2 linked regions of the Homo sapiens genome follow. The protein of the gene in region 1 purifies or fractionates together with the protein of each later gene. This does not show direct contact. Each region holds a gene or a part of one and is shown in the gene's direction. Other genes may lie near its edges.

The links.
Region 2: the proteins of INHBB (region 1) and ACVR1B purify together in Homo sapiens (affinity purification with western blotting, with the first as the bait; one study listed by BioGRID). This does not show direct contact.

Annotation. Positions count from the first base shown.
Region 1 is NC_000002.12:120,344,536-120,348,962, forward strand, and holds the start of INHBB (inhibin beta B chain preproprotein), read left to right. Parts: upstream 1-1,600; 5' UTR 1,601-1,653; coding exon 1,654-2,101; intron 2,102-4,427. Other genes in the region: translation initiation factor IF-2-like, read left to right, coding at 352-1,379. UniProt on the Homo sapiens protein: Inhibins and activins inhibit and activate, respectively, the secretion of follitropin by the pituitary gland.
Region 2 is NC_000012.12:51,958,140-51,961,943, forward strand, and holds part of ACVR1B (activin receptor type-1B isoform a precursor), read left to right. Parts: intron 1-1,120; exon of another isoform or gene 1,121-1,351; intron 1,352-1,916; exon of another isoform or gene 1,917-2,048; intron 2,049-3,804. UniProt on the Homo sapiens protein: Transmembrane serine/threonine kinase activin type-1 receptor forming an activin receptor complex with activin receptor type-2 (ACVR2A or ACVR2B).

The DNA of each region.
Region 1 (4,427 bases):
TGGGGAGGGCGGCAGCTGGGACAGAGGCAGGGCCTGCGCGGCGGCGGGGAGGCGGGAGTGGGCCGGGAGGAGCGCCTGGGTCCAGCGCCTGGAACCCGTCGGTGCCGCCGGCCGCCCAGCTGGGCAAGGGTCCGGGGCGCCCACGTGGTGGGAAAGTTTCGAGGTAGCAAAAGTAGCCCGGCATTGCGGGGGGTGGGAGGGGAGAGGAGGGGAGGGGAGAGGGCCGGCTCGCCCCTCCTTCTCGGGAAGGCAGAAAGGAAAAAAGCGGTGGGAAGCAGGGGTGAGCGCGGGGAGCGGGCAGCCCCAACCTGAACAGATTCCGCTTTCTCCTCCTCCCCCCACCCCGGGAAGCTCGAGCGGGGAGGTACGGACCGTCTCCTCTCGCACGGGCAGGACGACACCCTCCCTCCCCCCCTTTTTTCTGCCAACGTCTATCTCAACGCGCGCGCACATACGGAGATTGTGCGGCTTTTTTCCCCCTTGGGAGAAAAAACGGGGAGAGTAAAAGAAGAGAGACCAAAGAGAAGAACTCCTCCTCGGCGAGCTCCGCACTCCGTGCCGCGGCCCGGCGCGGGGACGCCGCCGCCGCCCGCCCGCTCTCTCCCGGCCCTGCGGCGGGTGCCAGTACGAGCGCGAGCGAGGGCACTGCACCCGGGGACGCTGCGAGACTTTTCGGCGCTCGAGCCGACCTCGCCGCCGCCGCGGCAGGCAGAAGAGACAGGAGCGAGAAGGGCCCTGCCTCCCCCTCGCCTTCCTCGCCCGGCGCCCCGCGCCCGGCCGGGCCGCGCAGGCAGGCGGAGGGAAGGAGGGAGGCTGCGAGGAGGCGGGCGGAGCAGAGGCCCCGGCGAAGCGCGCTGCGGCCGCCCGCCCGTGGATGCGGCGCCCAGGGATCCTGGAGACAACTTTGCCGTGTGACGCGCCGGGAGGACTGCAGGGCCCGCGGCCGAGGGCTCGGCGCCGCCTGTGAGCGGGCCCGCGCGGCCGGCTCTCCCGGGCACCAAGCTTGCTCCGCGCCACTGCCCGCCGGCCCGCGGCGAGGACGACCTGCCCGTCTCCGCCGCCGGCGGCCCTTCCTGGCGCGAGGCAGTGAGGGCGAGGCGCTCAGGTGCGAGCGCGGGGCCCCGCCGCAGCGCCCGCCGCAGCGCCGCGCCAAGCCGCGCCCGGCTCCGCTCCGGGGGGCTCCAGCGCCTTCGCTTCCGTCTCAGCCAAGTTGCGTGGACCCGCTCTTTCGCCACCTTCCCCAGCCGCCGGCCGAACCGCCGCTCCCACTGACGCTGCTTTCGCTTCACCCGAACCGGGGCTGCGGGGCCCCCGACGCGGAAAGGATGGGGAGAAGGCTGCAGATGCCGAGGCGCCCCGAGACGCCCGTGCGGCAGTGACCCGCGACCTCCGCCCCGCCCGGCGCGCCCCTCGGGCCCCCGGGGCCCTCGGCGCCCCTTCCCTGCCGCGCGGGAACCCCCGAGGCCCGGCCGGCCCCCTCCCCCTGCGAGCCGGCGGCAGCCCTCCCGGCGGGCGGGCGGGCGGAGGCCCGGGCGGGCGCGGGCGCGGGCGGGGGCGGGGCGGGGCGGCGCGCCCGGAGCCCGGAGCCCGGCCCTGCGCTCGGCTCGACTCGGCTCGCCTCGCGGCGGGCGCCCTCGTCGCCAGCGGCGCACCATGGACGGGCTGCCCGGTCGGGCGCTGGGGGCCGCCTGCCTTCTGCTGCTGGCGGCCGGCTGGCTGGGGCCTGAGGCCTGGGGCTCACCCACGCCCCCGCCGACGCCTGCCGCGCCGCCGCCACCCCCGCCACCCGGATCCCCGGGTGGCTCGCAGGACACCTGTACGTCGTGCGGCGGCTTCCGGCGGCCAGAGGAGCTCGGCCGAGTGGACGGCGACTTCCTGGAGGCGGTGAAGCGGCACATCTTGAGCCGCCTGCAGATGCGGGGCCGGCCCAACATCACGCACGCCGTGCCTAAGGCCGCCATGGTCACGGCCCTGCGCAAGCTGCACGCGGGCAAGGTGCGCGAGGACGGCCGCGTGGAGATCCCGCACCTCGACGGCCACGCCAGCCCGGGCGCCGACGGCCAGGAGCGCGTTTCCGAAATCATCAGCTTCGCCGAGACAGGTGGGTCCGGCCCTCCGGCTGTCTGCCGCGGTCCCCGCTCGCTCCCGCTCTCCCTCTCCTTGCTAGCTCCGGCTGCCACCGCCGCCACCGCAGCCCGCGCGCCCTGGGGCAGCCTGGACTCCCGGCAGAGCTCCTTCGGCCGTGGCCCTGCGCGCTCCGCCCGGGTTGCAGTCCTCTTCCCCCAGGCCGCAGACCCTTGCCTGCTGCCTCAACCCCCCGCCGCCGATCGCCTGGCCCTCCACCCCTGCTCTCCGGAATCGGGCCCCAGCGCCTCTGGGCGCGCGTCCCCCTCCCGGCAGATGCGCGCGGCCCTGGCTCTGCGGGCACTTGCTTGGTGATTGCTTAATGTTTTTGTTTCCCACGATCGGAGTGTAGGCTTAGCAGTGTGGATGGAGATGTGTGTGCTTGTTGATATACGTGGGCCGGAGGAGAGAGAGAGTGTGTGTGTATCTGTGTGTGTGTCTGTGTGTGTGTGTGCCTGCGTGAGAGGCCCCTGGGGCCGCTTCCATCACCGGCGGCGTGGGCTTGCCAGGATTGCTGAAGCCTCGCTGGGGAGAGCTAGGCAACCTCTCTTCCGATTGTGTGGGCACCGGAATCGGGCGGAAGGCAGGCTTCTCAACAGGTCCATCATTTACACAGAGAAAGCCGCGGTTCGGGGACAGCCCCGTGCCTCTCGGCTTGCCTGGCAGCTGCAGCAGACCCCTCGCCCGAGAGGCAGAGTCGTAGTTAACAAAGGGTATGGCTCCTTTCTGGAATCCGCCCCCCCCCCCGGCCCCAGATTGCAAATCTCTAACACTGTCTAAATATAAAAATCAGGGAGAGAAAAATCTTTCGGAACTTTAAAAGAAGGAGAAAAATGTGCCCGCGCCAAAATGCTGCAAGTGCTTTCGACTCCGCTGTCCTTTTCAGGACTTGAATGAGCCAGGCTGGCTTTTGTGCCTGGAGCTCGGCCCCATTTGTGCCGAGGGGACTGCGGAGAAGGTCGCAGAGGGGGAAGCCCCGGTGCAGTTAGGGCGGGGGCAAGCGGGGAGCCTCGGTGGGGGGAGCGGTTGTGCCCCTGGCTGCAAATGCCCCCCACCCCACCAGGCAGCAGGCAGCCCGGGGATGAAAAGGGATGAAAAGTTTTGCATGGCCGGGTGTGGAGAAAAGCAGAGACAATCGGGGCTGGTTTGTGCTTAGAAAGAAATGCATTGCCGTTTTAGCTGTCCACTAAAGTGAGTCAGGGAAAGCTCGCCATGCAATTAGAGGGCTCGGATTAAAAGGTGCTTTGGGGCCCAGAGTTAGAAATGTGATTCTGGAAGGTCGAGGAGGCCTTTTGGTCCCGGTGGCACAAAATGACAGCGGGGGCTGTTATATTTCTGGTCCGTTTCACGGAGCCAGCTCTTTGACTTATAAATAACAGATTCAGGTCACAGGCAGCTCGTCCAAGACCAGCTTTTAAGGCTGCAGTTTCCCCCATTTCAAAGTCAGATGTCAGTGTTATTAGAGGAGCCAGGCGAGGCCTGAGGTAGGGGCTTGGGAGGGGCATGGTGGGAGGTTTGATAAAACCAGCCCTGACCACAGAGTTTCATTATTTGTTCTTCCTGAAAAAAAAAAAAAAAAAAAAAAGGAAAGAAAAACGTAGATTGTCAGAGGCAAGGGTCACCGGAATGTAGGATGAGAGGGGAGTCATCTCTTGATTGGCACAGCCTCCTTCTTGTTGAGCTGAATTATTGAGAAAATTAACTAGCCAGCTCCCCTACTCCTTGGGGATTTTGAACGTGCCATTAACAGGGAGCCAGAGTCTTGTCAAAGGATTGGACCTCAAGTTTTAAGGCTGAATGTCCTGTCCCTTGAAACTATTCTATAAGGGCTAGGCTCTGCAGCCTGCAAAGCACACGTTCCTATGTCAGAAACCTGAGCAGAGCCTGCTTGTTTGCAGTGGAGGTTCCACTGGGGGTTGGATCACATCATACTTAGGTAAACACTGGAAAGAGGCGGTAGGTGGCTCAGCTTGATTTTGCAATGCGCTAAGTTAACCAAAAAAAAAAAAAAAAAAAAAAGCCCTACTAAAACCACCCACCCCAAAATCCTCCCTGCGATCCTGGTTTTGTTTTTCAGATTTCACAGATACCCATAACAACTTGTTAAGATCTTGGCCCCCTGACAAGTTCTTCTGTTGTGCTTTGAGGCCTGACAGCCTGTCTCCAGGGAGCCCTGGCCTGGGAGAGGTGAGGCAGGATTTTATAGGCGCGGACCCTCCAGCCCCAGCCTGGTCCGGGTTTCTCAATGAGAAACGATTTTCTCTGCCTCTCCCAGGTTACAGTCAGAGGCCCTGGCCCCAAGA
Region 2 (3,804 bases), on another chromosome or scaffold:
TTAGAACTGTATACAAAAGTGGTAGAAATAAAATTGTAGAATTTCACTAAACCAGAATTTTAATACATGTAGTTAGAAGTCCCATTTCCAGACTGCAAACTAAACATATGCATGTTGAGTACCTACCATGGTGATCTAGGGCAGTGGTCCCCAATCTTTTTGACATCAGGGACTGGTTTCGTGGAAGATAATTTTCCCACAGGGGAAGTAGGGGAGATATGATTTTGGGATGAAACTGTTCCACCTCAGATCATCAAGCACATCAGGCCGAGGTGGGTGGATCACCTGAGGTTGGGAGTTCAAGACCAGCCTGGCCAACATGGTGAAACCCCATCTCTACTGAAAATAAAAAATTAGCCGGGCATGGTAGTGGCAGCGCATGCCTGTAATCTCAGCTACTCAGGAGGCTGAGGCAGGAGAATAGCTTGAATCCGGGAGGCGGAGGTTGCAGTCAGCCGAGATCACGCCACTGCACTCCAGCCTGGGGAACAGAGTGAGACTCCTCAAAAAAAAAAAAAAAGAAAAGAAAGATCATCAGGCACATCAAGCATGTTAGATTCTCATAAGGTGCATGCAAGCTAGATGCCTCGCATGCGCGGTTCACCGTAGGTTTCCCACTCCTATGAGAATCTAATGCCGCCGCTGATGTGACAGGAGGCAGAGCTCAGGTACCCGCCTGCCACTTACCTCCTGCTGTGTGGCCTGGTTCCTAACAGGCCGTGGACCAGTACCGGTCTGTGGCCCCAGGGGTTGGGGACCCCTGATCCAAAGGGTCCCTTGACACATATTTATTGAGCACCTGTCATATACTAGGCATTGTTGCAGGTGTTAGGGATACAGTAGTAAACGAAAGGAGACAAAATTGCCTTCTCTCAGAAAGCTTACCTTCTGCCAGGTGAGGTGGACAATAAACAAAAGTATAAAATGTAAAGCAGTTGTGCCTACTACAGTCCACCTTCTGCTCCTCACTTCCCCAAGATTCCCCATGTTTGGTGTACACACACCTGCTTCAGGTATTCAGTCAAATGCTAGTCTTTGTAGATAGAATTAAGGTCTCAATCAGTTGACCTTTAGCCATCTAAAGGAGGTTATCATGGTGGGTCTGTCTTGATTGAACTAGCCCTTTCAAAGCAGAGAGATTTCTCAGCTGATTGCACAAGAGGAAATCAGATGTTCCAGCTGGCTTGGAAGCAAGCAGACGTCCATGTTGTGAACTGCCGATCCCAACAGCCACATGGCAAGGAACTGCAGGCAAACTCTAGGAGCTGAGAGTGGTTCCCAGCTGACAGCTAGGAGGAACATGGGGACCTCAGTCCTTCATCTGCAAGGCAGTGGATCTTGTCAACAACCAGTAAGCTTGGAGGAGGACCCAATCCTAGATGAGAAGGCAGCCCTAACTGGCACTGTCGGTGCTGTGCCTGGACTTCTGACCTGTAGGAACTGTGAAATAGTAACTAGGTGGTGGTTTAAAAAATGTATGCATTGGGTGGGGGTGAGTCAAATGGTGATGGTGAAAATAGGTAAAGCAAGAGAGGGGAATAATGAGAAATACCCCAAGATAGGCATGAGGGTACTTGAGACCTGGTGCCCAGCCATCCCATCACTCACATATAAAAATAAATCCTTTGACCACATGTGGCTTTCATCTGACTATAACTTTTTTCTAGATATTTGTGAGTGGAGGGGAGAGGGGATTGTGGATGCTTTGGAAATAAGTTTTTTAGGTGCTTGGGATGTTTGAGTTGAGGAATCTGGGAATTGAAGTATTTTCTGGGTTTTTTTTTTTTTTGTGGTAGAGGACTCACCTTGCCCCACATCCTTGTATATTGCTTTGGTATATGTTTGCATATTACCTTTTATACCTGTAGAAGATAAGATTGAATTGTAATCAGTCAGTGTTCATTTCTGATATCCAGGATGTGCCTAGCACCAAGCTGAATGCTGAGAGGGATCCTGAGGAAAGAGTCTGTCCTTGCCCTTTGGAAGTTTACACACAGAGACCGGCCACAGTGGCTCATGCCTGTAATCCCAACACTTTGGAGAATGAGGTACAGGGGATCGCTTCAGTCCAGGAGTTTGAGACTAGCCTGGGCAATATAGTGAGACCTCGTCTCTACAAAACATTTTTAAAAATTACAAGGGCTTGGTGGCGTGTGCCTGTGGTCCCAGCTACTTGGGAGGCTGAGGTGGGAGGATAGCTTGAGACCAGGAGATTGAGGCTACAGCAAACCATGATTGCACCACTGCACTCCACCCTGGGTGACAGAGTGAGATCCTGTCTCAAAAAAAAAAGTTTACACACAAATGGACTTTTTTTCTGCTTGTTGGAACTACCACAAACTATGAGGAGTTCAGGTGACAATTGTAATAAAAGCATCTGATTTGCTGAATGTTTACTATATACTAAAGTATTATGCTAAGCACCTGTGTTGTATCATTTACTCTATGTAGTTATTCTTTGAGGGGCTAGGGGCTCTTATTCCCATTTTACAGATGAGAAAACTAGGGCATAGAGAAGTTAAGCAGTGGGTCCAAAGTCTATCCAAGTCCAAAACATGTGCTCTAAATATTGTACTGTGCTATAAACTGTGAGTACTGTAAAAGTGACCTTCTAACCAGGCTCTCTGCCTTCAATCTCCCATTTGTTTTCCATCCTACGGCTAGATCTAACTTTGGAAATGCACCCTGTTTGTCTGACCTAGAGGTTGTGTGGCTTCTAGGATCAACTCTAGACCCCTTAGCTTAGCATTGCAATCAGTTTCATCTGGTCTTAGTCTCCCTGACTCTTCTTGCCTTTGGCTGGAACCTTGGCATTGTTCGAACTGTCAATTTACTCTGAACCCAGTGTAGCTAATATTTTTTCACAGCCCTTTGCTTTCCCTTTTCCTTTTCTCTGGAATGCTTCTCCCCACTTCTCTTCCTAGCCAAACCCAGCGTCCTCCAGTGTGGACCTTCGTCCTCTTGTGTTCTCCCGGTCAGTGATTCCATCCTCTCTGCTTTTCCCCTCAGCCTGTATTGGTAGTTGGAGTTGCACTGTTTATAGTTGTCTTCTCCCACTCTCCATGCCCAAAGAATTGGTGCGGGGAGCTGGCTTATTTGTTATATGGCTTCGGCCTGCACAGAGCCTTGCATGTTTCAAGTACTTAATAAGTTTGTTTAATTGAATTAATTCATTTCTTTTCCATCCTCTCAGTAAAATCCTAGGTAAATAATTCCAATTCTGTTTTGCTCTAATGTTATTATAATCTTGTATATATAGTATTTTAAACCTACTCAAAAAATGCCGCAAACATTTGTGAGTTACTTGGAACATCATAATCTCTCTTTCTACCTCACCTCTTTCATCTCTGTTTATCCTACCACCTACCCATTTTATTCCAGCCAAATGAACTTGATCTCTCAACCTCATTAGTTTTATTCTCAGTTTGGCTGATTTCTTTTTTCCTTTTCCATTGTCCCAGTTGCCTGAAACAATCATTCCTATCCCTCTTCTCACTCAAAACTGTGACATACACGGTCTCCTCTCCATTCGTCCATACTATAATAAATAGGTCAGGAAGAAAATACCAGGGATAAATATCCTTCCCTGCTCTATTGAGCCAGAAGTATGTTTATTCAGACTCAACAAAGAAAACAGTGGTTTTACATGTTCATCATAAACTGATATCAAAGGAGAAATGCAATTTCCTGATTGTCTAAATATGACAGCTGAGTCTGCACACATAGGTCCCAGGAACATTGGACACACTCCCTCATAATGAGGCCCACTCATTTCAGTCTTACCTTGACATTCTCTTGGGCAGC